Homo sapiens: one gene and its partners. The protein of the gene in region 5 interacts with the protein of the main gene of each other region in a biochemical or structural test. Each region holds a gene or a part of one and is shown on either strand. Other genes may lie near its edges. The genes, in order: IRF1, SOX10, CCNE1, NFKB1, GSK3B, NOTCH2 and CREB1.

Evidence for each region.
Region 1: the proteins of GSK3B (region 5) and IRF1 form a complex in vitro, tested with the Homo sapiens proteins (one study listed by BioGRID).
Region 2: the proteins of GSK3B (region 5) and SOX10 form a complex in vitro, tested with the Homo sapiens proteins (one study listed by BioGRID).
Region 3: of the proteins of GSK3B (region 5) and CCNE1, one has a biochemical effect on the other in vitro, tested with the Homo sapiens proteins (one study listed by BioGRID).
Region 4: of the proteins of GSK3B (region 5) and NFKB1, one has a biochemical effect on the other in vitro, tested with the Homo sapiens proteins (one study listed by BioGRID).
Region 6: the proteins of GSK3B (region 5) and NOTCH2 form a complex in vitro, tested with the Homo sapiens proteins (one study listed by BioGRID).
Region 7: of the proteins of GSK3B (region 5) and CREB1, one has a biochemical effect on the other in vitro, tested with the Homo sapiens proteins (one study listed by BioGRID).

Annotation. Positions count from the first base shown.
Region 1 is NC_000005.10:132,484,078-132,488,460, reverse strand, and holds part of IRF1 (interferon regulatory factor 1), read left to right. Parts: intron 1-435; coding exon 436-535; intron 536-1,330; coding exon 1,331-1,507; intron 1,508-1,616; coding exon 1,617-1,666; intron 1,667-1,774; coding exon 1,775-1,904; intron 1,905-2,087; coding exon 2,088-2,210; intron 2,211-2,744; coding exon 2,745-2,794; intron 2,795-3,963; coding exon 3,964-4,099; intron 4,100-4,383. UniProt on the Homo sapiens protein: Transcriptional regulator which displays a remarkable functional diversity in the regulation of cellular responses.
Region 2 is NC_000022.11:37,971,508-37,975,302, reverse strand, and holds the end of SOX10 (transcription factor SOX-10), read left to right. Parts: intron 1-1,104; coding exon 1,105-1,808; 3' UTR 1,809-2,991; downstream 2,992-3,795. UniProt on the Homo sapiens protein: Transcription factor that plays a central role in developing and mature glia.
Region 3 is NC_000019.10:29,818,008-29,822,558, forward strand, and holds part of CCNE1 (G1/S-specific cyclin-E1), read left to right. Parts: intron 1-2,694; coding exon 2,695-2,841; intron 2,842-3,714; coding exon 3,715-3,810; intron 3,811-3,988; coding exon 3,989-4,123; intron 4,124-4,232; coding exon 4,233-4,344; intron 4,345-4,438; coding exon 4,439-4,551. UniProt on the Homo sapiens protein: Essential for the control of the cell cycle at the G1/S (start) transition.
Region 4 is NC_000004.12:102,503,919-102,508,469, reverse strand, and holds part of NFKB1 (nuclear factor NF-kappa-B p105 subunit), read right to left. Parts: intron 1-4,551.
Region 5 is NC_000003.12:119,912,195-119,916,745, reverse strand, and holds part of GSK3B (glycogen synthase kinase-3 beta), read left to right. Parts: intron 1-571; coding exon 572-702; intron 703-3,935; coding exon 3,936-4,042; intron 4,043-4,551. UniProt on the Homo sapiens protein: Constitutively active protein kinase that acts as a negative regulator in the hormonal control of glucose homeostasis, Wnt signaling and regulation of transcription factors and microtubules, by phosphorylating and inactivating glycogen synthase (GYS1 or GYS2), EIF2B, CTNNB1/beta-catenin, APC, AXIN1, DPYSL2/CRMP2, JUN, NFATC1/NFATC, MAPT/TAU and MACF1.
Region 6 is NC_000001.11:119,922,355-119,926,905, reverse strand, and holds part of NOTCH2 (neurogenic locus notch homolog protein 2 isoform 1 preproprotein), read left to right. Parts: intron 1-294; coding exon 295-407; intron 408-1,095; coding exon 1,096-1,601; intron 1,602-2,921; coding exon 2,922-3,269; intron 3,270-4,127; coding exon 4,128-4,270; intron 4,271-4,459; coding exon 4,460-4,551. UniProt on the Homo sapiens protein: Functions as a receptor for membrane-bound ligands Jagged-1 (JAG1), Jagged-2 (JAG2) and Delta-1 (DLL1) to regulate cell-fate determination.
Region 7 is NC_000002.12:207,574,533-207,579,083, forward strand, and holds part of CREB1 (cyclic AMP-responsive element-binding protein 1), read left to right. Parts: intron 1-739; coding exon 740-922; intron 923-2,098; coding exon of another isoform or gene 2,099-2,115; exon of another isoform or gene 2,116-2,121; coding exon of another isoform or gene 2,122-2,161; exon of another isoform or gene 2,162-2,393; intron 2,394-2,577; exon of another isoform or gene 2,578-2,692; intron 2,693-2,972; coding exon 2,973-3,123; intron 3,124-4,551.

The DNA of each region.
Region 1 (4,383 bases), on a different chromosome or scaffold from region 5:
CAGTGGTATGACCAGGACCCCCTGTGTAAGAGCCCATGCTCCCAGGTGTCCTGAGGAGTCCTTTCTAATGGAAGAAGTTCTTACTTCCATGTGGGTGCTTACAAGCCAGAGAGAAACATCCCAGAGCTTCAAAACCAGGGCTTTGGGGGAGGGTGCCCTGTGTGGGTCCTAGCACATGTGTAACAGGCAGAGGGAGGTCTTTGTGAGCTAATAATGCTGCAGCTCATCCAAACTAGGTGTCCCTCCTGAGAGATCCAGAGTGGTCTGTTTAAGCCAGCCTCAAGATGGGTGTCCAAGCCAGATGTCAGGGGAAAAAAGGGGAAGTCAGCCTTTTCTCAGACCTGTCTGGCTGGGCAGGCCTGGGTCTCAGACTCAGCCCCAAAGTCTGTGGTCTCTGACCTGACACAGCCTTATGTGTATGTGTGTATTGTTCAGGAGGAGATGATCTTCCAGATCCCATGGAAGCATGCTGCCAAGCATGGCTGGGACATCAACAAGGATGCCTGTTTGTTCCGGAGCTGGGCCATTCACACAGGTGTGTGCCTGGGACTCAGGCCTAGGAAGCCCAGGGTAGAGACAAGAGGAGGCACTCACGTTAACACAGAGGCTCTTCACTGGGGTCCCTGAGCTCCCTGAGACAACATGCAGAATTACTGGGAAGAGGGGCTGGTGGCAGACTTGTGTTTCTGGAGAAGAGAGTCGATCATCTCAGCAAATTCTCAAAGGGAAAAGCCAAGATCTTAGAAAGTGTGTGGCTTCAGGGGGTTTGTGGCTAGATGAAAGTTCTCCCTGGCAAAAGCATCTGTGAAAAGCAGCTGTAAGCCAGGGCACTGAAAGAGACCCAGGTCTGCCTTTTTCTTCGTGTTGACCAAGGCCCTTGGTCCAAGCCTCATGTGGTTGGTGGCCTCCTTTATCCTTGAGAGATGGAGCTCTAGGCCCATCTCAGAACAGTCAGCCCACCCATTTAGTAACTGTTCTCTGCTGCCCAGTCTGTGCCCACTCTACCCTCTGGCTGCTGATAGCCCAAGGAGGAAGACTGGGCATAGTCTGAGACACAGATAGTACACTTTGGGGATATGGGGACTCTAGTGCTTCTGGCTGGGCCCTTCACTGAGGCCCGCTAGATGTGTTTAAGCCAAGCCTGGGCATTTGAGAAGGCCCAGGGCCTAGGACCTGCAGAGTGTCACCGGGAGTACCTGCTGGTTTGACCACTGTGGCTCTCTGGTAGCATAAGAGGTCAGGGGTACCTTGCCTTCCTCCTTCAGGCCAGGGGCAGCTGAGGATCCCTACCCATGGCCCTGACGATCCTCTTTTTTCTCCTGCCCTCTAGGCCGATACAAAGCAGGGGAAAAGGAGCCAGATCCCAAGACGTGGAAGGCCAACTTTCGCTGTGCCATGAACTCCCTGCCAGATATCGAGGAGGTGAAAGACCAGAGCAGGAACAAGGGCAGCTCAGCTGTGCGAGTGTACCGGATGCTTCCACCTCTCACCAAGAACCAGAGAAAAGGTATCCAAGGACTCTGGGTCCTTGGGAAGCCCTCAGGGAGGGAGGGTAGAAGGAGGTCAGCTGGGGCTGGAGAGCCTGCACCAAGGCTGACAGCCCGTCTGCCCCACAGAAAGAAAGTCGAAGTCCAGCCGAGATGCTAAGAGCAAGGCCAAGAGGAAGGTGAGTGTGGTCCTAAGCAGCCAGGCCTTTGGTCACCTGTGGGCCAGGGTGAGCAGTGGAAGAAATGCTAAGGTGGGCCTGGGCCTAAGCTGCTTTCTCCCTCGACAGTCATGTGGGGATTCCAGCCCTGATACCTTCTCTGATGGACTCAGCAGCTCCACTCTGCCTGATGACCACAGCAGCTACACAGTTCCAGGCTACATGCAGGACTTGGAGGTGGAGCAGGCCCTGACTCCAGGTGAGCTGGTCCAGGTCTGGCAGGAGACCCCACAGGTCAGTGGGATGACTCTTTCTCTTGGAGGCATGGTGCTGGCACATGGTGGCCCATTAGTGCAGGCTGCAGGGTTGGTCGGAGGGCGCTCGATGTCTTGCAAACTAAGAAAGCACACAACCTTGACCTGTGGCTTCTGCTGTTCCCCAGCACTGTCGCCATGTGCTGTCAGCAGCACTCTCCCCGACTGGCACATCCCAGTGGAAGTTGTGCCGGACAGCACCAGTGATCTGTACAACTTCCAGGTGTCACCCATGCCCTCCACCTCTGAAGGTTGGTGCTCCTGGGGCCTGGCCTGCCTGCTTGACTGTCTGGGTCCTGTGAAGGGCTTCCTGAGAGAGAAAAGATGATCAGAACTCCACCTGGCACTGAATTGATTGAGTTGGGCATTGCCCAGTCTTAGCCACCATAGGGGGAGGCAAGCGACGGGGACACTAGGAAGGCAGTTCAGAGTGGGCTGCAGTACAGTGGGGGCTGGTGAGAGGAGGGAAGGGGGCCAGGGGCTGCATTTTGGGGTGCTGGTTCTCCTTCCTCCTCTGTAGCCCAGCATCTGAGGGTGAGGAAGGAAGTAGGGTAGGGGTGGGAAGCGGCGTGGCTTCAGGGTTTGAGAGGCTGAGTCACCAGGCCAGGGTCCTGTTCTGGAATCTCTATGGCAGATAGGTCCACCGGGAGGGTGTGTGTGTGTGTGTGTGTGTCAGAGAGACAGAGAGACAGAGAAAGGGCAGGGGGATCTGGTGGGCTGGAACTGGAACTGCAGGGTGAGTGTGGCTGACTGCCAGCCAACCTCTCTGCTTTCCCCATCCACAGCTACAACAGATGAGGATGAGGAAGGGAAATTACCTGAGGACATCATGAAGGTAAAGCCCCTTCCTACCTGGGCACTCTTGAAGTGACCGTTTCTCAGTGAGGAGAGAGAACCAGTGAAGCTTCCAAATCAGAGGATGGGTAGCTGCTGTTGTCACCTGGCTGCTTGCATTGTCCCACAAGTGCCACATTCACGTGGCTTGACTGGTGGGAAAGCCACCATGGGAAGGGAAGGCAGGTGGGAGGCCTGGCCTCTGACAGGCCGTCCTGAAGCAAGCCTTGGGGCATCAGACAGCTCTGTGAGTCAGGCACTATCAGCGATGGGTCCCTGGCCTGCATCCTCTGCCCCAACATGCCCCAGCCCTGCTAGTTCGGGAAATGCACATCAGGCTTCAATAATCAGCCTTTAGGATCCGTTAATATGATGATGGCTTTATAGAAAAAGTTAGCAAATTATCCTCCAGGTTTTTTTTTCTGCTTCAGTTTTGAAAGTGAATATAGTTTTTGCAGCCGGGGGCAGTGGCTCATGCCTGTAATCCCAGCACTTTGGAAGGCGAAGGTGGGTGGATCACCTGAGGTCAGGAGTTTGAGACCAGCCTGACTAACATGGTGAAACCCATCTCTACCAAAAATATAAAAATTAGCTGGGCCTGGTGGCGCATGCCTGTAATCCCAGCTACTCTGAAGGCTGAGGCAGGAGAATCGCTTGAACCTGAGAGGCGGAGGTTGCAGTGAGCTGAGATTGTGTCATTGCACTCCAGCCTGGGCAACAAGAGCAAAACTCCATTTCAAAAAAAAGTTTTTGCAGTAGTTGTACGCCAGCTGTTCCATTAGCCCAAAAAATTGAGACATGGATGTCGTTCCTTATCTCTAGCTTTTCTAGTCATCTTTTCTTGATTTATTATGCTAACCTTTGTTTTAAGCCACATTCCCTCTTACTATGTCCTTACACAGTTGAGAGGGAAGTCGTGGAGATGCTATACCAGAGAGTGGGTGTGAGAGGGGTGGGAAAATGAATTGAGGACCAGTGCCAACATGCATTTCTGCCTCCTCCCTCCCGGGCCCTTGTCCTGACTGCAGTGCACTTCTGCATCCTATCTGAGATTGTGAAAATGGCCAAGGGTGTGATACTGGCTGAGAGGAGCTGGCTCATTGAGGGCAGGGCCACAGGGTGAGTCTGCACTGGAAGGGAGTTGATAGCCTCTTGCTCTTCTGTCCCCAGCTCTTGGAGCAGTCGGAGTGGCAGCCAACAAACGTGGATGGGAAGGGGTACCTACTCAATGAACCTGGAGTCCAGCCCACCTCTGTCTATGGAGACTTTAGCTGTAAGGAGGAGCCAGAAATTGACAGCCCAGGGGGTAAGAAGGCCCTGGATCCTTATGGCTTCTTAGATGAGGGAGAACCACGTAGGGATGGAGAAAGCTTGGGGGCAGGGCCAGGGAGCAGGGCGGTAAAGCATCTGGGGTACTGACACATTGTGAATTAGCTACGGCTGCCATGCCTTAAGGTTTGCCTGAAGCTGAGTGGATGTTTACTGCTGTGCTGGGAAGAGCAGAGGCCATGTCTATGGCCTTCAGGGGTAGGGGGAAGCACACCTGATGCCACCGTCCCCTACCCTCATACAACCTTCTTCACATCTTCT
Region 2 (3,795 bases), on a different chromosome or scaffold from region 5:
ATTGTCACCACAGCACTTCCAACTCTGGGTGCATGTGGATCTATGGATCTATGACTAGACTATGAGCTTTTGGGAACAGGGATCCATTTTATTTACATTAGTATCCCCAGCACCTGGCACAGTACCTGGCATTTTGTAATGCTCCCTAAGAGTTTGCTAAATTAATATGTGAATAGGAAAGTGAACAGACAAAGGAACAAGGACCAGTTTTCTAAGTGCCCTCCCATGGAGGAAGGCAGCTCAAAGAACAACAGGGCAACACAGGCCAGCGTATGACGGGGCTAAGGGCTTGCCAGTGGGCTGGGAAGCAGGGTGGGCTCAGGAGGAGGGAAGGGTTGGAAAGGACACAACATGAGGCCAGGACAGGGAGCAGGCCCAGGCAACCAGCAAAGGTGAAACAGAGCACTCAGGAGCCTGGGCGAGCGAGGCTCAGCAAGGAAGACAGTAGGCATGGGTGTGGAAGCGGGGCTGGCAGAGCGCAAAGGCTGGGCCAGACCACCTGGACAGCAGAGAAGCTGATGAGAGGAAGAACTTTCCACAGGAAAGGTTTTTTCAGAATGAGGCAGGCCTCCCCAGGACCCATCCCTAAGATTTGAGAATTTCATAAACAACTAGAGATCAATCTAAGACACCAGTATTTAAACAAATGCTGTGGGGCGCAGTGGCTCATGATGGTAATCCCAGCACTTTGGGAGGCCGAGGCAGGTGGATCACCTGAGGTCAGGAGTTCAAGACAACCCTGGCCAACATGGTGAAACCCCGTCTCTACTAAAAATACACAAATTAGCTGGGCATTGTGGTGGGCGCTTGTAATTCCAGCTACTCAGGAGGCTGAGGCAGGAGAATCATTTGAACCCAGGAGGCAGAGGTTGCAGTGAGCCGAGATGGCGCCACTGCACTCCAGTCTGGGCAACAAGAGCGAAACTCCATCTCAAAAAAAAAAAACAAAAAAAAACCCGACTCATGCTGCCAAAATGTGAAACTTACAAGGTTTTCCCAGAGGCACCCGCTGCCTGAAGGTGAACCATGGAAGTTCACGTGCGCCCACCTGCCTCTAACCTGCTTCCCCCTTGCGCTCTCTCTCTCTGTCTCCCTTCTACCCAGGCCAGAGCCATGGCCCACCCACCCCTCCAACCACCCCGAAGACAGAGCTGCAGTCGGGCAAGGCAGACCCGAAGCGGGACGGGCGCTCCATGGGGGAGGGCGGGAAGCCTCACATCGACTTCGGCAACGTGGACATTGGTGAGATCAGCCACGAGGTAATGTCCAACATGGAGACCTTTGATGTGGCTGAGTTGGACCAGTACCTGCCGCCCAATGGGCACCCAGGCCATGTGAGCAGCTACTCAGCAGCCGGCTATGGGCTGGGCAGTGCCCTGGCCGTGGCCAGTGGACACTCCGCCTGGATCTCCAAGCCACCAGGCGTGGCTCTGCCCACGGTCTCACCACCTGGTGTGGATGCCAAAGCCCAGGTGAAGACAGAGACCGCGGGGCCCCAGGGGCCCCCACACTACACCGACCAGCCATCCACCTCACAGATCGCCTACACCTCCCTCAGCCTGCCCCACTATGGCTCAGCCTTCCCCTCCATCTCCCGCCCCCAGTTTGACTACTCTGACCATCAGCCCTCAGGACCCTATTATGGCCACTCGGGCCAGGCCTCTGGCCTCTACTCGGCCTTCTCCTATATGGGGCCCTCGCAGCGGCCCCTCTACACGGCCATCTCTGACCCCAGCCCCTCAGGGCCCCAGTCCCACAGCCCCACACACTGGGAGCAGCCAGTATATACGACACTGTCCCGGCCCTAAAGGGGGCCCTGTCGCCACCACCCCCCGCCCAGCCCCTGCCCCCAGCCTGTGTGCCCTGTTCCTTGCCCACCTCAGGCCTGGTGGTGGCAGTGGAGGAGGCTGAGGAGGCTGAAGAGGCTGACAGGTCGGGGGGCTTTCTGTCTGGCTCACTGCCCTGATGACCCACCCGCCCCATCCAGGCTCCAGCAGCAAAGCCCCAGGAGAACAGGCTGGACAGAGGAGAAGGAGGTTGACTGTTGCACCCACACTGAAAGATGAGGGGCTGCACCTTCCCCCAGGAATGACCCTCTATCCCAGGACCTGAGAAGGGCCTGCTCACCCTCCTCGGGGAGGGGAAGCACCAGGGTTGGTGGCATCGGAGGCCTTACCACTCCTATGACTCCTGTTTTCTCTCTCACAGATAGTGAGGGTCTGACATGCCCATGCCACCTATGCCACAGTGCCTAAGGGCTAGGCCACCCAGAGACTGTGCCCGGAGCTGGCCGTGTCTCCCACTCAGGGGCTGAGAGTAGCTTTGAGGAGCCTCATTGGGGAGTGGGGGGTTCGAGGGACTTAGTGGAGTTCTCATCCCTTCAATGCCCCCTCCCTTTCTGAAGGCAGGAAGGAGTTGGCACAGAGGCCCCCTGATCCAATTCTGTGCCAATAACCTCATTCTTTGTCTGAGAAACAGCCCCCAGTCCTCCTCCACTACAACCTCCATGACCTTGAGACGCATCCCAGGAGGTGACGAGGCAGGGGCTCCAGGAAAGGAATCAGAGACAATTCACAGAGCCTCCCTCCCTGGGCTCCTTGCCAGCTCCCTCTTCCCTTACTAGGCTCTATGGCCCCTGCTCAGTCAGCCCCACTCCCTGGGCTTCCCAGAGAGTGACAGCTGCTCAGGCCCTAACCCTTGGCTCCAGGAGACACAGGGCCCAGCACCCAGGTTGCTGTCGGCAGGCTGAAGACACTAGAATCCTGACCTGTACATTCTGCCCTTGCCTCTTACCCCTTGCCTCCCAGTGGTATTTGAATAAAGTATGTAGCTATATCTGCCCCTATTTTCCTGTTCTGCAGCCCCCCAAATCCACATGTAACTCATTACTGTCTCCTGTTATTTATCTCAGTAGTCCCCTCTCCTAGCCACTCTAGCCCCTATTAACTCTGCATTAAGCATTCCACATAATAAAATTAAAGGTTCCGGTTACCTGCTTGGTGAGCCTGACCTGGCCTGTCTCTTCATCTCTTATCCCTGTACTGGTGCTTCCTCAAATGCTTTCTGGAAGTAGCTAGGAGTAGAATGCAAAGGATAGATCATCAAAGGTCTCTCTCTCCCACCTCCCTCCCTCTTTCCCCACCCCCTTCCCCTCCCCCCTCCTCTCTCTCTCCCCCCTCCCTTCTCTCCTCTCTTTCTCTCTCTCTCTCCCCCCTCCCCCTCTCCTTTCTCTCTCTCTCCCCCCTCCCACTCTCCTCTCTCTCTTTCTGTCTCTCTCCCTGCTAAGAAAGTGGGAACAATGGAGAGTGTTAGGACAGCTGGCATCCCAGTGGGGTCCATCTGAGCTCAGGGACTGAAGCCTCAGATGGGAACTTCTCCCCAGCCCGGCGGCTATGCCCCACACTGCAGGGGGGCCACTCACTCTTAACTGGCTCAGCTAGAACTCACTGCCTTGCAAGCAGCCCCTCTGCTCACCCAGCACTCAGCAGACGGGAGTTTGCAAAGAATTCAAGAGACAGGTATCTGAAGAGGAGGAGGTGGGCTGAGGGTGACACCGTGCTGCCTGCAGTCAGAGGCCTGTCCTTCAGGATGTGTGGATAGGCCCTGTGTTGCTGCATCCCCCCACTTGCCACCTCCCCCAGCACACACACAGCAGCCCACGCCAGGATCTAGCCAAGCCTTCACAGCAGGTGCCCATGTCCAAGTCCAGACCAAGGATGTCAGACAGTCTACTCCTTAAGCGCCTACTCCCTAAGAGCTCTTTCCTCAGCAGAAGTCCAAACTGCACCCAGAGGC
Region 3 (4,551 bases), on a different chromosome or scaffold from region 5:
CACGCCATCACGCCCAGTATTTTTTTTTTTTTTTTTTGAGACGGAGTCTTGCTCTGTCACCCAGGCTAGAGTGCAGTGGTGCGATCTCAGCTTACTGCAAGCTCCTCCTCCCGGGTTCATGCCATTCTCCTGCCTCAGCCTCCCGAGTAGCTGGGACTACAGGCGCCCGCCACCACGTCTGGCTAATTTTTTGTATTTTTAGTAGAAATGGGGTTTCACCGTGTTAGCCAGGATGGTCTCGATCTCCTGACCTCGTGGTTTGCCCGCCTTGGCCTCCCAAAGTGCTGAGATTACAGGCGTGAGCCACCGCACCCTGCCTAATTTTTGTATTTTTAGAAGAAACGGGGTTTCACCATGTTGGCCAGGCTGGTCTTGAACTCCTGACCTTGTGATCCACCCACCTCGGCCTCCCAGAATGCTGGGATTACAGGTGTGAGCCACCATGCCCAGCTAAATTGCTTTTAAATGTATTCACTGGGATGCATATATCACCTGTTTTATAGCTACTGTCATAAATTGTAAACATATATGAACAAGCTTATCTTAAACAGGTCTGACATTGCTCCTTTTTAACTTCTTGGAATCCATTCCCTTTTCCACCATTCCCATTTATTCTAATAAAATATATTGTTCAAATCCTGGCTGGGCACAGTGGCTCATGTCTGTAATCCCAGCACTTTGGAAGGCCAAGGCAGAAGGATCCCTTGAGCCCAGGAGTTAGAGACTAGCCTGGGCAACATAGCGAGACCCCATGTCTTTTTTTTTTTTTTTTGAGACGGAGTTTCGCTCTTGTTGCCCAGGCTGGCATGCAATGGTGTGATCTTGGCTCACCACAACCTCTGCCTCCCGGGTTCAAGCGATTTTCTTGCCTCAGGCTCCCGAGTAGCTGGGATTACAGGCATACGCCACCACGCCCGGCTAATTTTGTATTTTTAGTAGAGACGGGGTTTCCTCCATGTTGGTCAGGCTGGTCTTGAAGTCCCGACCTCAGGTGATCCGCCCGCCTTGGCCTCCCAAAGTGCTGGGATTACAGGCGTGAGCCACTGCGCCTGGCCCTTGAGACCCCATTTCAACAAAAAATAAAAAATTGTCAGGGTATAGTGGCTCAGGCTTGTAGTCACAACTACTGGGGAGGCTGAAGTGGGAGGATTGCTTGAGCCTGGGAGTTGGAGCTTGCAGTGAGCTGTGATAGCGCCACTGCACTCCAGCCTAGGTGACCATGAGACTCTGTCTCAATTTTTTTTTTAAGCATATTTTTAAAGATATTTGGACCATTGGAGTGGCTTCTGTGTTTTGAGACAGAGTTGCTCTGTCACCCAAGCTGGAGTGTAGTGGTGCAGTCACGGCTCACTGCAGGCTCCAATTCCTGGGCTCAAGCAGTCCTCCCACCTCAGCCTCCGCAGTCCTTGGGACTACAGGCATGAGCCACTACTCCCTGCCGATTTTTTATTTTTTGTTGAGTTGGGGTCTTGCTATGTTGCCCCGGCTGGTCTCCAACTCCTGGGATCAAGGGATCCCCATGCCTTGGCCTCCCAAAGTGCTGGGATTGCAGGTGTGAGCTACAGCACCCAACTCAAATCTTTTCTTGGTCCACACTATTTTATTTCTCTTTAACAGTTAATCAAAAGAACAAGTATAACAACATTTGATAGATAATGGTTAAACATAAAAGATGAGATTTTATTGGTTGTATATCTTACTGGGATGAACTGCGGTAGCTTATAGTTTCTTGATTAAGGGAAGCTTCCTAGACAACCTTGTAAGACTTGAATGGGTGAGAAGTGGGCTTTTCTTCTGAAGTGGAAGGACATCTCAGGCAGACCTGCTTCATGAAAACATGTAGAAGTTGAGTGTGTAACTACAGAAGTACCCCTCATCCTCGGGGGTACATCCCAAGACCCGCAGGAGATGCCTGAAGCCACAGATAGTACTGAGCTCTAGATATGCCATGTTTTTAATCCTCTACTTTCATGTTTTCACTTAAAGAAAGCACTTCACGGCTTCTCTTTGGCATTTCCAAATAGCCAGCATCACTACTCTTGCCCTGTGGGGCCATTATTCAGTCAAATAAGGGCTGCTTGCTTGAACACCAGCACTGCTGTGCTGTGACAGTCCATCTGATGACCTGTGTGCTAGTGAGTGACTAACAGGCAGGTGGCCTACTCCACGGGGATGTGCGGGCAAGGGGATGATTCACATCCTAGGCAGGTGAGGGTGGGACAGGCCAGAAGGGCCCCTCATTTAAAACCTATCAGTTGTTAGGCTGGGCACAGTGGCTCATCCCTATAATCCCAGCACTTTGGGAGGCCGAAGCAGGTGGATCACTTGAGGCCGGGAGTTCAAAACCAGCCTGGCCAACGTGGTGAAATACCATTTCTACTAAAAATACAAAAATTAGCTGGGCATGGTGGCGGGTGCTGGTAATTCCAGCTACTCGGGAGGCTGAAGCAAGAGAATCGCTTGAGCCTGGAAGTTGGAGGTTGCAGTGAACCAAGATCACAACACTACTTTCCAGACTGGGTGACAGAATAAGGCACCTCAAAAAAAAAACAAAAAAACAAAAAACTATCAATTGTTGAGTTCAGGAACTTTGCATTTTATATTTTCCTTCACCAAAGTCATTACAAGTTTTTTTTTTTTCCCCTCCCTCAAGTAAAACTTACTTGTGCTAAAACTTACTAAATATGTTTTCAGGTGTGTGAAGTCTATAAACTTCACAGGGAGACCTTTTACTTGGCACAAGATTTCTTTGACCGGTATATGGCGACACAAGAAAATGTTGTAAAAACTCTTTTACAGCTTATTGGGATTTCATCTTTATTTATTGCAGCCAAACTTGAGGTAAATAATTTTCAAATATTTGTTCTATAATGTGTGTTATTTCTCGAGCTCCACTGAGATTGGGGGAAGAGGTTGGCGCTTAGCCTATAGCACTCATCCTAAATTTTTCTGATTTGCTACCCTGTAAAGTTAAGACACATGCCAAAAAGAAAAAAAGGCTGGAAAGTGACCAGGAAGAGAAAAGTAGTGAGGGTATGGAAGACCTAGGTTCATGTAGTTACATTGAGCCAAAAAAAAAAATGAACTTTGAACTAAGATAATAATTTTGGGCCCGGGTTGGTGGCTCAAGCCTATAATCCCAGCACTTTGGGAGGCCAAGGCAGCTGGGTCACTTGAGGCCAGTAGTTTGAGACATGGTGAAATACCATTTGTACTAAAAATACAAAAAATTAGCCAGGCGTGGTGGCACGTGCCTGTAATCCCAGCTATTCGGGAGGCTGAGGCAAGAGAATTGCTGGAGCCCAGGTGGCCGAGGTTGCAGTGAGTCGAGATCCTACCACTGCACTCCAGCCTGGGCAACAGAGGGAAATTCTGTCTAAAAGAAAAAAGAAAAGATTAAAAATTTGTGTATGATTATCAAAGGGTATATGGGCCCAACTTTCAAATGTGTTAAAGGTACTGAAAAGGGGATATTTCAAGAGTACCCACAATGAGTCAAAGTTCCATCCATTTATTTAATGGTGGGTGGGAGTTGTGTTCTTTTTTTTTTTTTTTTTTTTTTTTACAACCATTGGTGTGGCTTCTGTGTTAATTCCATCAGTGCGCCCTCTCTCTTTCCATGCCAGGGTACTGAGAAGTCATTTTGGATGCATTATAAATTGAGACTGTTAGAGATTGGCTTTGGTGCTAGTGCCATCTTTTATTTCCTTTCAGGAAATCTATCCTCCAAAGTTGCACCAGTTTGCGTATGTGACAGATGGAGCTTGTTCAGGAGATGAAATTCTCACCATGGAATTAATGATTATGAAGGTGGGTTCCAGTGAATTTTCCGGCCATTTTTTAAATGCGTACGGCAGATCTTTTCCACCTGAAGTGTGAGTGCCTCTGGGAGGTGTTCTCCAGCTGGACACATTGTGGCATGGAACATGGCTGCATTTTGAACTTCTTTTCTCAATCATCGGTCTCTTTTCTCTCTGTTTTCCTTTAGGCCCTTAAGTGGCGTTTAAGTCCCCTGACTATTGTGTCCTGGCTGAATGTATACATGCAGGTTGCATATCTAAATGACTTACATGAAGTGCTACTGCCGCAGTATCCCCAGCAAATCTTTATACAGATTGCAGAGGTAAGTGGCTCCATCACGTCCGTGGGGCCACCTTCCCTGCAGCTGGAGTGAGGAACTCTAGAATAGGCGTGTGGTGGCATCCATCTCAGCGTTCTTTTCTTCTCCGTAGCTGTTGGATCTCTGTGTCCTGGATGTTGACTGCCTTGAATTTCCTTATGGTATACTTGCTGCTTCGGCCTTGTATCATTTCTCGTCATCTGAATTGATGCAAAAGGTTTCAGGTAAGTTGGCTTTCCAGTGCATGCACAAACAAGGTGTACTAAGCTTACATCCAGTTGTCAGCCTCAGATTAAGCCCACGATGTCTTCACTGCAGGGTATCAGTGGTGCGACATAGAGAACTGTGTCAAGTGGATGGTTCCATTTGCCATGGTTATAAGGGAGACGGGGAGCTCAAAACTGAAGCACTTCAGGGGCGTCGCTGATGAA
Region 4 (4,551 bases), on a different chromosome or scaffold from region 5:
TGCTGATTTAAGTACTTTCCTGACTATCCAACTGAGCAAAAAATTAAGTGTAATTTAATTTTAATTCTTAACATTGCTTTCAACTTCTAATTTCCTCTACATAAATAGCCACCCACACATGCTTCTTCCATCATTCCACATCATCATCATTTTAATTTTATAAATCATGAAGGTTCTTGTATTATATGCAGATGCTATAAATTGTAAGGTATTCTCCTCTGGCCTCATTACCAAGTCCATACCCCATTTAAAAGAAAAAGACACTGAAGGTTATAGATCAAGTCTTAACAGTCAAACACCAATACATGTTTAAGCCTTACAAAATAAGCCTATACTTAAGAACTGGTAGACAAAGAGGTTCTTCAAATATCAATAAAACATGATTTGGGAATTTGTGTTAAAACATCCAAAAATAGTTATTTTCTCATTCCTAAAATTCTTGTCATGGAAGACATATTTTCTAAGACAATTAAGTAATCTATTTTCACTATTTAAATGAACTGCAGGCTTGGGCTTAGAACCAATAAATAGGTTGATTAGGGAGTCTGTCATCACTTTTATGTTTTCTTTTTTACATACTTGTTATATGGTAGAATTGACGTCTGGGATAAAGAGGGATAGGTGTGCCCTAACACTGAAATATGGTATAGTATTTTCAGTCCAAATGACATGATAAATAATAAAAATAATTTTTTGAAATAACTGCTTTTAACAAATAAAAGTCATTAAAAACAAATTGCTTTTTAAAATGGGACATTATAGAGGTATGCTCAACTTTATGCAGGTCTTATACTTTCTTTAGTTCAAGTTAGTGAAAAGTAAATCCTAGAAATATTAGTGAGCCTCATTTATCAAAAAGGTTCACCTTGGCCAAGCTAGGTGGCTCACGCCTGTAATCCCGGCACTTTGGGAGGCTGAGGCGGGTGGATCACTTGAGGTCAGGAGTTTGAGACCAGCCTGGCCAACAGAGCAAAATCCCATCTCTACTGAAAAAAAATAAAAAATAAAAAATAAATTACAAAAAAAAGGTTCATCTCAAAGAAAAATCTAATAGCTTTATTTTCCAATATGAAATGCATGAATTGTCCATACATTTCTACTAGTAGCGTAAGGATTATAACAAAGTTAGAGCCTTGTTTGTTTTGTTTATGCTTCTCTTCATGCCCAGAAGCTGCAGACTGAACTCGTAAGGGAACACACAAAAATTTATCTTTTTCTGGAAGCCATCTCATGGGGAAGTCACAGGCAGAGTGCCTGGATTATTTTATTATTTTAACAAACACTGCCGCTATTAATCTTCGGAGTACTTTTCAACAATGACGGCTTTACAGTGCAATTGTTATAGATGTTAACATTTAATTTCTTTCTCATTTTGCTGGCAACAACAAAAAATATTATATATACATATTTGTAACTAATATATATTAAATATAATTATATTAGTTACAAATATGTATTTATACATATATCATTATATTTAATATACATATTAGTTACAAATATGTATATATATAACCTTTTTTGTTGTTGCCATATCTGTATATGTAACTAATATATATCAGTATATTTAATATACACATTAGTTACATATATATGTAACTAACTTTTAACTTAATTTTTAAACTTGAATGTTTGTTGTGAGTGATGTGAGGGGAGATCAGGGTCAGAACCAGAACTAAGTGGCAGCAAAGCAGAATGAACTGAAGTGAGCAGCGCTCAATAAAATGGTTGTTTTCCCACAGGACTGCATTAGGGTTCCCAGGGGGCACAATGACACTAGGACAGGGAGTATTGGCATTTTGCTCTTTTCTAGTCTAAATGGTATATTTCATTTAAAAAACTGTGTCCACAAAAAAATAAATGGTTCAATTCAGAAATTCAAGGCCAACTTTTAAAAAATGCTACAACTGAAAAATAATGAACAAACTGTGCTAGGATGAGGCCCCAGCTTCTATAGTGTTGGAAAAATCATTAAAGTATGAAAGTGGAAAGTACAGTAAACCCTGCTAACTGCCTGCTTGTTCCTGAGGTTTGCCATCTAGTAACTTTTAACAGTCACAGATTTATGGGTGATAGGTGTTTAATTCTAGAGGTAACATAACAAAATAACATATTTTGTTTTAACTTTTTGGTTGATTAATTTAGATAAGTGTTAACAATTCTTAGATTACCAAGCAGTGCTTGTAGCATTGTTTCTTTTTTGGAGGTATTAGTATTTGATATTACAGTTTCAATGGAGTGTACAGAAATTCTAACTTCACCAAAAAATTACATTTTTCAATTTTACAAGCACCTTTTATCATTCCAATTACTTTATAATCTTGCTCTGGTGCCTCTAAAACTTTGAAACTAAAAGGCATTTTTTTTCTAGTTCATAAATGCCTCTTTCAGAATGAAATGTTCCCCTTTTGGAAGGCGCCAGATACTTTTTAATAAATTATTTGTTCTAGTAAACTTCAAGTGGTCTTTAGATAAGATTTCCATAATATCTAAGACACAAGGACTATTTTGTGCTCCTTTCTTTCCAGAAGGCAAAGCAAAATAATGTAATTTTTGTTCCTTATAGAAGATGGCTGTCCATTTAAAAAAAAATTTTGCAACAACTTCATATCATTCATTCATTTAACAGTTAATGATTGCTTACTATGTACCAACAAGTACAATGCTAAGCATCAGATATTTCTTTCGTCAGTATTGATTAGATATTATTTATTTTTAGTTAAACTAGAGTATTTGATTCTCTCAAACAGCTTTTTCTTTATTTCATTTTTTATAATTTTGGCTATTTTAAAGAATAAATTCTTTTCTAAAGCTTAAGCAGTCAAAATTTGTCACAGTTTAAACTAATAGGATCCATAGATGAACTCAAGTCTGTTGATATCTACTGAAGGCATGGGTCAAAATAAAAGCTATTTTAAGGTTTCTGGATTAATGGTGAAAGATGAATGAAAAATAATAAGGCAATTTGTAATGGATAATTAAACCAAATATATCATTATTCTAATTTCAAAAACAGGCAATAAATTAAAGCAGATGAAATTTGTATTACTGATAATTAATTCTGTTTGTTACTACAGAAAATATGACACAATAAAAATTGTTTTCTTTTTAAAATGTAAAATGCACTATTTTTATTATTAGTACTCTAAATTAAACAAATATTTTCATCCATAATCTATCTTCTGAGATTTCTATAATCTTTAACAAATCACATCTTATGTGACTCTTATTCTGTACAGAACTGTCAGGCTTTAAATTATTTGAGGTGTAGCAATGCAATTTGCACAACTTATTTTCTAAACTGTTGGCTGATCTTCAAGGCCAGGTCAACAACCTCCGGAAATGTAAAAGACAGTATATTAATTTGCACCCAGGAACAACCCCTAATACAGCAGAGACCAAAGGTATGAAGCAATTTCATCATCATTAAAAGAATGTTACTACTTTTTTCTCTTTTTTTCTTCTAAAAGTGAGGCACTGGATACTAATTAATGAAATACTACAAAGATAAAAGGCTTGGTTATGTTACCAGAACTATTAACTGTCCAAATTATGTGGTTTCAAATATTAATCTTTTTTGATTAAAAAAATTCACAGTCAAGGAGCCAAACTGACTTGCAGGACTATGCCAAAACGTTCAAACCTTTCTCCCTGAGGCTGAGTACCTTCAGTTCTTCCAAACTGTCTGTCTCCAAAGTAGTGACAAAATTCAAAGAGAGATCATATGCTCTTGATGGTTTATTGCTGACCTCTAAGAACACTACAAGTGAGTTCAGTATTTATGGGAGGTGCAAGAGTGCAAATGAGAACTAATTCCCAAAAAGCAGAGTAAATTGCTCCAGTATGGTCTACTGTTTACCAAGACGTAGTCATCAATTAATGCTGATTAGACACAAATGTAGATGTAGGAGCAGAACATCTTAACATATCCTCTAGCACTAACTTCTATTTTTCCTTCTCCTTCTCTTCTAATATAACAATCCCACTACTGTAGACAATTCACCTTGTAAACAGAAAACCAACAGACCAACCGAATAAAACAAACTTCCTACTAAAAGTAAGAAAATTAATGAGAAATTTTGCATAGACATCCATTCCTGTTAATGTGATTTCTGATCAATCTGTGGACCAGAAGAGCATAATCTGAGAATTTACTCTATTGGTTATACAACAGTACTGTGCATTTCCAGATACACTTCCTACTGCAGTCAATTCTATACTCAGAATAGCACATCTACTAAGACCCGAAGATGCAAAAGATGACATTTTGAGTACTTCATCAAAAATCCATACAGCAACTCAGATACAATTATTTTACTGTTTGAAAATATCGACTACTTTTCTTACTTCTCCCAAGTTCAAACCAATTGAAGGTTATGAAGTAACCACTTCCCCCCAGAAGCCAGAACTTTCACCTCTTCTGAACAGAGAAATACCTCTCATAAATTAGGTAAAAATAAGGTCTTGCTGATGGAATGATAGTCCAACATTCATGTAGCTGCCAATTCCCTATCTAGACCTCGTATCTACCACAATGAGCAATCCCTGAAA
Region 5 (4,551 bases):
GATAGAGCAGTGATTACAGATTTTCTCAGTCCACATGAGTTTTCCTAGACCACTGTATCAATCACCTTGGAGGCTGACATCTCAGAAGAATATTCTAAAGATCACACTTTGGAAATACGTTTACATTCAGCAGCATGCTCTACTAGAAAGAACTATAAACTTAAAAATCAGGAGACCTGGTTTCTGGCCCAAAGTTACTGATTATTCATGATTTGGGGTGCCTCTCTGAGCTTTTCATTTGTGTTTTAAATAAAAGCCCATCTTAGCAGGCTTGTAATGTGAGATGTTAGTAAAATTAAAAGTTATAAAGCACATTGTAAAATTTTCTTCTTTTGAGTTATTAAAGAATGAAGCGAATAGTACATATGGTTAATGACAGTTTAGCTAATTCATATAGAAATAGCTAATTAATACAGAAGTGACACAAAACTTGTGAAAGGAAGATTGAGTGCCAGTAATCCATAGCATTTCACCTGTTCTTTTCTGAGAATCTGTTACTTTATTGACTGCTTAAGGATTCTGATTTGTTTAGAATAGGAAGTATTTAATTAATTTCTACTATCTATTCCAGTTGTATATGTATCAGCTGTTCCGAAGTTTAGCCTATATCCATTCCTTTGGAATCTGCCATCGGGATATTAAACCGCAGAACCTCTTGTTGGATCCTGATACTGCTGTATTAAAACTCTGTGACTTTGGAAGGTAAGCTACTGTCCCTCTCCCTGCCCCTTCCCTTTTCCCCTCCTCCCCCTACTATCTTCTTTTAAATATATTCCTTTTGCAATATCAGCCTAAACACAGTAATTCTTATTCAAGAAGTATAAACTAGTGCAGCTGTGAGAGTAGTTTTGTTAGTTTCTGTCAAAATTATAAATGTATATACTCCTTCATTTAACAGTTTAACTTTTAGGAATTATTTCCTTAGGAATACATATTTACAATACAGTGTATATATAGGGATTTTTATTATAGCATTGTTTATAAGCATCCATTAGTAGGAAAATGGCTAAATAAATTACGGTACATGCAGAGTAATACATGCAACCATGAAAAAGAATGAGGCAACTCTCTGTGAACTGAAAGGGAATGATGTCTAGGAAACATTAAATGAAGAAAGCAAGATCAAGAGTATATGTATTGTATGCCACCTTTTATGTTTTAAAAACATACAGAATGTGACTATATATATATATATGTACACACACACATATATACACAAGTACATGTGTGGCTTATTTCTGAAATGGTACGTAATCCATAATATTTGATTGCCTGAGAAAGGATCTTTGGGAATATAATGTAGTTGGGAAACTCACTTTTTCATTGATTGTATTTTAGTATTGTTTGAATTTACATTAGGTATATATACTCCTTTTTCAGTAAGAACTAAATTTTTTCAAAATATTGATTATTATACATTCCTGTGTATCTTTTTAACTTCACAATTAACCTCAATTCAGGGATGAGATAAAAAACAATGCAGTGTTTTCTTCATTTTCCTCTATAATTTAACCTTTTATTCCACCCTTTTTCCTGCAAATTTCATCAAACTTTCTGCTTTTAAAAGCTCATTTCTTGGTAATATACTGTGAATTTGTAATACAACTTTATTCTTTCCATTTTCAGTTTTCAGTACTTTGTGCCTCTCTGATCTAACCTTTTAACATGTAGTCAAGCCTACATTCCCATGTAACTCAGGCAGTTACCCCGCTACTTCCTCACTGGTGTAATCACCTAATCTCTCTCCTCATGGTCCCTAAGACATCTTTACATAATTTGGATTCTCTCCAATTTAATTTTTTCACCCTTGTTACAGATTCTTTTCACCATAGCTCTATAGATAACATATTGCCCCACACTTGTTAATACCTGTGTTCCTATCCCTTTGTAATACTTTTACATCAATTCACAGTTTAAATTTGGGGTTTAACATAGGATATGTTTTCCACAGGCTTCTCTTGAGACAGATCCTTTAAAAAATAAGTAAATCTGTTCTGTCATGAGTTAATTTTTCTTAGTCTCACAATGTGTCCTCTTTCAGACTGTCCTCATTTTACTGTTTTCTAATTTCAGATGACCTATCACTTTGCAGGCCATGACTCTGTTCCCTGAACTATTTTTAAAAAGGGTGAAAGATAGTAAAACTCTTACCTGGTGTTTGAAACAAAGCACTACTACTTGTCTATAGGAAAAACTGCCCAAATCAGATATGTTTTATTGTTAATGGGGTGTCTTCACCATTGAGAGTGACTGACTTGGTAGGGACAGACTGAGACACCAAGGTTAGAAGAGCTTCTGTTCTCATATAGTGTCAAAACACTTGGTACAGCCCATTCTCTTGGGACATAAAATAGCTTTATTCTGATAAATTTGGAAGAGGGATTTCGCTTGTTTGATAGCTCATTTTTATAAACCCTCTGATTTTTTTGTTTTTAACAAAATTGGTTTGGTCAGATGGAGTTTGGGAAACACTTTGGACTGTACATTATCAGATTGGTAATTTGAACAAAATACTATTACTTTCTTCTTATTTTTTTACTAGATGAAAAGGGGCCAAAAAGTAGCTAAAGAACTAGTTGGGCTATTTAGGAACAAAAAGCTAGATGTGATCACAATATTGGGAAGTAGTTAAAACCAGTCTCCTCTGTAAGAGAGGCTGCTCCGTTTTTGTAGCTCCATCAGGTAGTGAAAAAACTTCAGGCTACAAAGCTTGGGTATTAACGTTTTGTCTCGTAATGAATTTTCTGAACATAATTAGCATCTATCTTGTTAATTAAAAAGCATCCTTTAGAAGATATAACAGTCTCCTATCAATTATGCTGAAAACTAAATGTCATAATTTTCATGCAGCCTAAAAACAGGGATTAGTATTTATTAATTTATGAAATGGTTATTGTATGTCAGTACTTGGGGAGAGGGTTAAAAAACAAACTTCAAAACTAGTGATGAAGGAAAAAGAAGTTAAGGTTAGAGTCATCATTGACTAGAAATAAATGGAAGAAAAGAAATCCCAGTCATTGAAATCCTTGTGACTACTTTCATCTGTCTTTACCCTGGTTTTCCAGTACCTTTACTTTTTTTTTTTGGCACTTACTGTTTTACTGTTTTGATTTTGTTGCATTTTGTCCCTTTATTTATCTTTATTATTAATGTATGTCAGAATGGCTGGCTTCTACAGCAGTTTATTTTATTCTGTCTTTGGATTATCTTGGGCGACATCTCAAAAGAAATTAATTGTAATTTATTATACTTCATATTTAAAATACATGCAATGAAGTATTTTAGTAGGAAAATTGGAATAAGAAAACATGCAATTATACTTACTATAGCAGAGTTAGAATTTATAGGCAGTGAATCATTTCTGCCCTGAAGTTGAAGGGCCTGTTTATAATTTATTGGGTAATAAATGTTTATGTGGTTAATAAATTGACCAAGATATGGAAAAATAGATTGAGTCTATAAGCCTTGAAATATTCGCCGTGAGTCAGAAGTCAAAATGCAAGACAGTGGCCAGTTTCTCACCCTTTTTAAAGAAATACATTGGGTGAGGAGTATTCATTCTTAGAATCCATTGTCATGCTTTTTGGTGGGGGAGGTACCTCTTTTCTGCCCTTGCTTCTTTGTATTTTAGAGGTGGAATTTGGGGAACAGAGGATCAGAAGAAATTCAACACTTATCCTTTTTTGCTTTTGGTGCCTTCTTAGGTGACAAACGCTTTCTTTAAAAATTGCTATTCTTTTTTGCAGAGCAAGGTGATAAAATTGTAAATTTCTTTTATTAGAGATAGTTACAGTTTACATTTTCTTTTTCATATATGATTCAAATGATGTGAATCTTATAAAATCATTTGATACTGTGAAAGGATAGCAGTCTAAGTTCTTTAAGGTTTAGATTTAAAGAATTTCTGCTTTTTATTTTTATTTTTTTTCTGTTAGTGCAAAGCAGCTGGTCCGAGGAGAACCCAATGTTTCGTATATCTGTTCTCGGTACTATAGGGCACCAGAGTTGATCTTTGGAGCCACTGATTATACCTCTAGTATAGGTAAGTACAAATCTGAATATAATGCTCATAATTATTAATTGCTTCTTGATTTTGGTAATTTAGTACTACTAATCTGTACTTTTATTTCCATGGAAAGATGGATATATCCCATAATGTTTTTTTTCTTAAAGCTTGAGATGCAAACATGTATAGGCATACCTCATTTTATTATACTTTCCAGGCACTGCTTTTTTTTTTTTAACCTCTCAAAGGTTTGTGTCAACCCTGAGTCAAGCAAGTCTGCCCACACTAGTTTTATAAGAGCATGTGCTCACTTCATGTCTTTGTGTCATCATGTCTTTGTGTCACATTTTGGTAATTATTGCAACATTTCAAACATTCTCATTGTATCTGCTATGGTGATCTATGATCAGTGGTCTTTGATGTTACTATTGTAATTGTTTTGGTTTGCCACAAACCACAACAATATAAGACAGCAAACTTAATCGATCGGTGTTGTGTATGTTATGAATATTCCACCAGCTGGCCATTCCCCATCTCTCTTCCTA
Region 6 (4,551 bases), on a different chromosome or scaffold from region 5:
ATTTCTCTTTTTTTGATGGGATTTAAGTCACTTTTCTCACCCACCCTGTTGTGTGAGTTGGTACTTACTGTGTAGGCAAGACAGAGTAAGGGACTGGCCTGAGCTGGTGACAGGCCAATCATGTTGAGATGCAGTGAGTGTTTTCTTTCTATGCTCAGATTACCACAGGCCTAGAACTGAACTCTCTCACACTTGCTTCACCTATGGCTAGTTCCCATCCCAGCAAAGTTTGTTGAGTAACTTGCAGTGACTACTTCTGCCTTTTAAAACCTTTTTTATTTTTTATTTTCTGAGGCCGGCACTGTGAAACCTTCGTCGATGTGTGTCCCCAGATGCCCTGCCTGAATGGAGGGACTTGTGCTGTGGCCAGTAACATGCCTGATGGTTTCATTTGCCGTTGTCCCCCGGTAAGTGCCCTGTTGCTCATCTAAGAAGGGGCATTGTCTCTTCCATACAATCTGTGAACAGAACTGAGATTAAACCTGGTTTTACCAATCTTCGAAATGGGAAGATTTCTCAATTTTAGCTCTTTCAGAGGAAAGTGCTTGGGTTTTTCCATTTAAAGCTGTTTACAAGTGACAAAACAAAACAAAAACAAATAAAAGCTGTTTAGACACTCCCAGAAACAGTGAGCTTCCCAATCCATGACTGTCAGTCTTAAGAAAAACTAAGGGAAAACCACAAAAAGTGGTGGAGTGCCCCCTTGAAAATAGGGCTGATGTGTGGGGCTTCTTGGCCCCAGGCTGGAGGGTAATCTCACTGCCCAGATTGGGCCAGAGTTGGTGGAAATGCTGCTCTTACATTCTTTAGCAGGAACCATTTGGAAGCAAGTTGTCTCTTAAAGTAGAGGGAAGCTCAATTTTAGCTATTTGCTATACCCATTCTTTTATCACTGCCAGAGGTTGAAACCTTCCCAAAACAAGAGATCCCTATGCCTCGGGAGATACCAAAAGGAAACCTGTCTAGTAACCTTGGCTTGGGCTGAACGGGAAGTACAGAAGGGAGTGAGATGTGGAGGTTTTCTAGAAACCTCAAACTTCCAATATGACTGTTTTCCTACCAATGCCATTTTTATTTCCTCACTGATTTCCACAGGGATTTTCCGGGGCAAGGTGCCAGAGCAGCTGTGGACAAGTGAAATGTAGGAAGGGGGAGCAGTGTGTGCACACCGCCTCTGGACCCCGCTGCTTCTGCCCCAGTCCCCGGGACTGCGAGTCAGGCTGTGCCAGTAGCCCCTGCCAGCACGGGGGCAGCTGCCACCCTCAGCGCCAGCCTCCTTATTACTCCTGCCAGTGTGCCCCACCATTCTCGGGTAGCCGCTGTGAACTCTACACGGCACCCCCCAGCACCCCTCCTGCCACCTGTCTGAGCCAGTATTGTGCCGACAAAGCTCGGGATGGCGTCTGTGATGAGGCCTGCAACAGCCATGCCTGCCAGTGGGATGGGGGTGACTGTTCTCTCACCATGGAGAACCCCTGGGCCAACTGCTCCTCCCCACTTCCCTGCTGGGATTATATCAACAACCAGTGTGATGAGCTGTGCAACACGGTCGAGTGCCTGTTTGACAACTTTGAATGCCAGGGGAACAGCAAGACATGCAAGTAAGGGCTTCACGTTTTCCAGAACTGAAGGGGACTGTCACTAACACACTTCAGTTTCTCGTTCTTGCTCCTAACCACTCCAGTGCTTCAGCCTAAGCTGCCTCTGCTTTTCAGATGGTGCCAGCCTTGTCCCATCGCACACTGCCCTGTGCTCTCCCTTGCTGACAATGGGCCAGGAATGCTCATTGCATAATGACCCTCTCTCTCTGCCTATCTTTGCCTTCTCACCTGCTGCCTTCGTGACCTCCTGGGGGATATAACTTTTGGAAGTGGTGTTTCCCACTTCAAGCAGCCTCTCACATAACCTGCCTGCAGGATGGATGGAAAGGTCTGTATCTCTCTCTTCACCCCATTCCTTTCCCTAAGACTGTTTTTCCCCATCTAGATTTATCAGGAAGCATGAATTAGATTAAGTCTGTGAACCCTCCCGGTCTTAATTGTATAGGATGCTCTATGGTTTACTTAGGAACTTTCCTATTAACTAGCCATTCCATATAATTTAATCCCAATTAATTCTCAGCAACTCACGAGGCATAGGTATTACTAACATTCTTTCATAGGTGAGAGAACTTAGGCCCAAGGGTTAAAGAACTTGCCAAAGCAAGTTGTTTCTTTGACTCCTAATCTTCTGATTGAGCTAGCATGAAAAGTTGTACCAAATAGTATAAATATCAAGGGGTAGGGGATGAGGAGAGGAGAGTATAGATGGAATAGTTTGTACATCATTTAGGTTTGGGGGTTCTAATTCCTTTTCCAAATATTGAAAGAGCCTGTACAAGTAATATCTGGTGTGCTATAAGGACATACCCATCTGCCTTTACCTTCTGTAGTTGGGATTCACTCTTGAAAGGGAAAGAAATGGGTCATGTTAATATTGTTCTCTGTATGGCAACTCTCAATGGTTCAGGGCCTTGTATCAAGTTTCTAGAGGCATCTTTCACTTCCTAAAGCCCGTTGTTACCTTACTGGGGGCAATGGATTTCTCTAAAGTAGAGGAAGCATGAACCAGGTTGACTTTTGTTTCAGATATGCAGCTTTGTTTGAAAACCTGACTTAACAGGCTTGTAAACTGCCTGGGAGCCCCTAAGCTCCTGCAGCATAGTGAGTACAATGTTCTTCATTTAGGAAGTACTCAACAAGGATGAGTGGCATAGGCATCAGGGATAGGAGATGCAAAGAAGGTTTTGTGGGGCATTTGGGTCCTGGGTGTGGGCCACAGAAAATGGGTAGGAAAATCCACAGTAGTTCCAAATGAAAAAGCAAATAGAGCTCCAGTCTAATCTGAGCTCTTTTGCCTGTTCTCTGCTTCCCCTTACCTAGGTATGACAAATACTGTGCAGACCACTTCAAAGACAACCACTGTGACCAGGGGTGCAACAGTGAGGAGTGTGGTTGGGATGGGCTGGACTGTGCTGCTGACCAACCTGAGAACCTGGCAGAAGGTACCCTGGTTATTGTGGTATTGATGCCACCTGAACAACTGCTCCAGGATGCTCGCAGCTTCTTGCGGGCACTGGGTACCCTGCTCCACACCAACCTGCGCATTAAGCGGGACTCCCAGGGGGAACTCATGGTGTACCCCTATTATGGTGAGAAGTCAGCTGCTATGAAGAAACAGAGGATGACACGCAGATCCCTTCCTGGTGAACAAGAACAGGAGGTGGCTGGGTAGGTGTTTGGTTTCTGAACTTCAAGGCTAATTTTATGAAGCCTAGCACTTTGACATATAGCACAAGTCATAACTCAACCTATAGAAATGCAAAGATCAGAAAAATAGAATGGCCCACCACTTAAGATAAACCCGTTACCCCAGTACTTACGTTTAAATGTAAAGATATGCCTTCGTCTTGGCTGAAAAGTGGGCAGGGGTACACAGGAGGCAGAATGTCTGGAAGGCCTCCTCAGATGCCAGAATCCATAACCTTTTGCCAGAGTTGCCTCAAATCCCTTTATTAGTGACATTCCTTTTTACATTAATCATTGCCTTATTGTTAAGGCCCTTCTTTAGAATATATGTCTCTTTGACACAGGTAATGATCTTCAGTTGCTCTGTCATTCACACCTCACTCTTTGTTGGTATATTGTCAAACTTTCAACCCTCCAGCTAGCTGAGATACCAATGCAGAGACAAAGGAAAATAAGGACTAAAAACACACAGGGATGTATGTTTAGAGTAGCACCAAGTACCACTGAGTAGGTATGAAAGAGTGGAAGAAGACCACTGAAACCTTCGGGAGGAAAGCACAGCTTCTCACTTTGTCATGCATTGCCTCAGCCAGAAGGCTTTGGTCAGCCAGACTAAGGAAGGTGGGACATCCTCTATGTGGGAATTAGTGTTTAAGATCTCAAGGGACAGTATTCTAATTCCTGAGATATGTCTTAAGGCAGCATCCCAGAGGTGGGGACCTGATGCTGAAGGGGAGGAAGGGAGGCTCCTGTCACCCTTTATGACATGTTCTGCCTGACCTGCACTCTTCTGTTTTACCCCCATCTCTCCTCCTCCGCTTCTCCCTTGGCATCCCACAGCTCTAAAGTCTTTCTGGAAATTGACAACCGCCAGTGTGTTCAAGACTCAGACCACTGCTTCAAGAACACGGATGCAGCAGCAGCTCTCCTGGCCTCTCACGCCATACAGGGGACCCTGTCATACCCTCTTGTGTCTGTCGTCAGTGAGTGGCACTGGTGTAAAGGGGAAAGGTGGCGGGGGAAGAGTGTCAATTGGGGGAACAATTTTCATTATGTAGCCCTCTATTTTTTCAGGACTGTTGAGGTCAAAGTTGCCCTCTAAATGAATCTAATGCTGACATTGAGAGGTTAATGTTTTATTCAGCACTTTCCCTGTCTCTGTGGACTTTCAGGTGAATCCCTGACTCCAGAACGCACTCAGCTCCTCTATCTCCTTGCTGTTGCTGTTGTCATCATTCTGTTTATTATTCTGCTGGGGGTAATC
Region 7 (4,551 bases), on a different chromosome or scaffold from region 5:
ACAAATGAATGACAGGTGTGGCTAATTAGGGCATAAACAACAAAGGGTTCTATATGAGAATGCTTGGATATGTATTAAATAATTTAGAAATGACAGTTAAAGTTTTTTTTCTAAATGATGATCTTGAGCTCTGATTTTAAAATTCCATGAGAGACTGTTGATAATTAAGTTCCATAGGATATTTCAGTTGTTTCATTGAGTGGATTAGATACCATTAAAGAATTTCTACAAGAGTTAGGGAATACAATGCACTGATGAACTGCTTTATTAGTTATATGTTAAAACAACCATTTATTGGGTGCCTATTTCATGGCTGCCACTGTGCTAAGTGTATGAAAGTATATAAGAAAATTCCTACTCTCCAGAAATTTATTTACTAGTGGGACAAGTATTAATACATTATGCAGTTAATGCTAAAATAAAAGAAAGGATCACAGAGTGGAACCTCTTCAGAACCAAATAACTTCAGAAGGAATTTAACATTTTTCCACTTAAAAAAATTGTTAACAGGCATTATTATTATAAATTAGAATGCAGTTCATAGAGTGCATTTCTATTGTAGAAGTTGAATATGGGTTTCCTGAGGAGCAAGTTACTTGAATATATTAGACCCTTCTTGGTGATGTTATTTGCTGTAACTTCTCCTAGATTATTTTACAAATTATTCTACATTGGATGTAATGTTTTAAAAGTCTTATATGGTATTAAACTTGTAACAATAAAATCCATTGGCTTTTAGTTGCCATTACCCAGGGAGGAGCAATACAGCTGGCTAACAATGGTACCGATGGGGTACAGGGCCTGCAAACATTAACCATGACCAATGCAGCAGCCACTCAGCCGGGTACTACCATTCTACAGTATGCACAGACCACTGATGGACAGCAGATCTTAGTGCCCAGCAACCAAGTTGTTGTTCAAGGTAAGGGAATTCAGAATTCACAGGTGTGGTAAATTCTTCAAAATACTAAAATTTTATAAACTCACAGAAAAAGTAAGTATCATATTGCAAACCACCATTCAAATGTAGTTAACATTTCTTCAATATTGATAGTATTTTTCATGAACTCTTCCATTATTCCAATTGGACCAAAATGTCATGGCATAAAAACAACTATTTTCAGTTTTTAAAATATTGCATCTACCTTTAACATCTTTTGGGGTAGAAGAAACAGGATAGGTTAGAAGGAAAGACCAGGAAATCAGGAGTTAGAAAAGATGGATTCTGTATCTAACTGCATGGATCTGCTATGAGGCCTTGAGTAAAAGTCAGCTGCTCTGAGCCTCAGGAAAGTGTTTTGTTTTTTGTTGTTGTTGTTTTTGTTTTTTCATCTGTAAAATAAGAGTTGCACTGAATCTCTGGAAACAATCTTCAGAAGTTCAGGATTCTGTTTCTCTGCTTCCCCCCCCCCCCCCAAAAGAAATTTAAATCTTCTGAGATCATCAGTTTTTATTATTATTATTATTATTTTTTTCTAGAGACATGGTCTCACTGTGTTGCCCAGGCTAGTCTTGAACTCCGGGCCTCAAGCAATCCTCCTTTCTCAGGCTCCCAAAGTGTTGGGATGCCTCTGCACTTGACTCAGTTTTTGTTTCAAATGAAAACATTATATTCCACAGGATCTTATACCAATATGCAAATCTGCTGCTCTTTAGAGAAAAAGTAGTTGTTAAATTCTCGACAAATTATAGAAGTTGCTTTTTTTGGCTTTTTTTTTTTTTTTTTTAGTTTTTTTTTTCTGTTTATTTCAGGAATCTTTATGGATAGCAGTTAACCATTTTTCTTTGGATTTGTTTGAATATTTCAAGAATATAGTTAATGCCAGGTTAGAAATTTGCTGATTGAGGAAATAATAATAAATTTGTTTCTGAAAATATTTTTATAAATAATAATGCATTTTGCCTGTGTTAGGTAATGACAGTTGTATCCTTTCACCATGGATAATTGAATAATCCTGAAACACCAACTGGAGAGAGTCATAACTTATTTAAAGAGCCCTAATGTTTACAGAATATATTCTGTTATTAAACGAGTATTTGAAAAAGATACTATTTTGCTTATTGATGAGAGTAAAACACCTTTTCACTTTACATGCAGGTACTCAAAAATTGTAAAGCAGGATGTCAGTGAATTTGAATTCTGAACGTCAGTTTGAAGATGGTAACATGTTTAGTATATAAATCTTTTCCACTCAAACCATACATTTTAATTGATATTAATAATTAATATGAATAATTTTATAAAGACCTTCAAATTTTTTTAAGTAACATTAGGTTCCTTATTAGGAGAGCATATTATTACGCTGTTTTTAGAAGCAGTTTGACAAATAGTGATTGTGTTTGTTTTTACAAATGGTGAATCAGTTAGAAAAATAAAACTTCAGTTTATTTAGCCATTATCATTTACATTAAAACAATATGTTTTTCAAATAATATAATTGGCATCAAGTGATACACTTTTTCATACTTTTAGTTTTGTTTTAATTCAAAATTTATAATAGTTGACCATAATGCTTTATCTTCTTTTTCATTTTGCTATTTTATGAAAAATCATGGTCGTTTTTATGTCGTGGCAAGAGTCTACTTGAAATTTTTTAATATGAATTTACCAATATCAAAGGAAGACACTGAGGACTATACTCTATCTAGGAAGATCATCCAAGCTGTGCCCCACTTACCTTTTAGACTTAAGGTTGGTAAGCATGTTAACAACAGAATAGAACTGCATTCAAATGAAAAATAAAATGTAAGATCCAGCGGACATAGGTTACTGTAATAAATACATTACATTGGGAATTATTTCTTAGTAGTGGCGCGAAGAGTGCTGATTCTTTCAACGCTTTAGCCAGAATCATCTTTTCTTTTTTGTTTCCCTTTTAGTCCAAAATACATGCTTAGATTGATGATTGATACACATAATTGAATCAAGTTGCAATGTTTCTGTCTTACACCATGCTCACTGTTTTTTTCAGCTGCCTCTGGAGACGTACAAACATACCAGATTCGCACAGCACCCACTAGCACTATTGCCCCTGGAGTTGTTATGGCATCCTCCCCAGCACTTCCTACACAGCCTGCTGAAGAAGCAGCACGAAAGAGAGAGGTCCGTCTAATGAAGAACAGGTACAAATACTGCATTTACTTAGATTGTTATGTGTTAAGTGTGTCTTCACATTCTGCTGGATGTGTATCTTTACATCTACTGGTAATAGGATCTTTGCATTGAATTTTTTTTTTCCAGCAGAATTAATGGATCTTGCTAAATTTTCTTTATTTAATAAGCTGCACTTATAAGATAGCTGTATGATTATGGGTCAATCTTTGATCGTGGAGTAGTTTTCTTTCATGCAGTTTCCCCACAGGAGATTTAATGCACAACTTCCCTATGTCTGCACTCCAACCAGTTAGCCAGGTTATTTAAAAATGGTTTCTTTTCATGTATAGTATTGTTCAAGAAGATCAAGAGTTTCATATATGTATATTAACTGTGTGTTAAATTTTATCTATATTAAATTTACTTGATATAAAGTAAATGTATGGTGGCCAGTTCATGTTTTAATGAATAATATCTTTACTCAAAATAATAACATTTTAACACCTAAAGATTCTTCAAAAATATGTTAATTCTAAGAATACCATGTTACGGACAAAAATCTTAAAATATAGTCTTCAAAAAAATACTACATTCAAAATCTGTGAAATGTTGGTAAAGCAATTCTCAGAAAGTAACTTTATTGCTGTAAATGATTTTGCCGTCAAAAACAATAAAAATAAGTTACTAAATATTGGTTTAGAACTTTCATATAGAAGTGACCGAGACAAACAAAAGAAAATGAAAATAAGGTTATGTAAAGGTTTAAAAAGTTTGAAATTAGTGAAAGTATCTCACTGTTCATCCCAGGATACTTCAAACACTGATAAAGTGAAAGAAGCAGGGCTTCCAAGTCCTAGCCCTATCCCTCCATTTTGGGAGAAGGTATTAACCTTCTGTACCTCAGTTTTGTAAAATGGGATTCCAGCACACACCCAAAGTATTGTTGTAAGAGTCAAGTAAGAGAATCCTTTGAAAGCACTTTGTAACTGTAGTGCTCTGTTGAAATGGGTTTGTGTGTGTGTGTGCAATTTCACAGCTCAGATCAGCTTTTTTGTTCCTAAAATATTCTTAGCTGTCACAATGTTAGTAAATTATATCTAAACTCTGAGAAATGGCAGAGATTTTTCTGGGATATTAGAAAAAGAGTTGGAAACAAGCCAAGTGACTTTTTTTTTTTCTCCCGAGATGAAGTCTTGCTCTGTCACCCAGGCAGGAGTGCAATGGTGCAATCTCAGCTCACTGCAGCCTCCACCTCCTGGGTTCAAGCAATTCTCCTGCCTCAACCTCCCGAGTAGCTGGGATTACAGGTGCCCACCACCACGCCTGGCTAATTTTTGTATTAGTAGAGACATGATTTCACTATTTTGGCCAGGCTGGTCTCGAACTCTTGACCTTGTGATCCACCCTCCTCGGACTTCCAAAGTGCTGGGATTACAGGTATGAGCCATGGTGCCCAG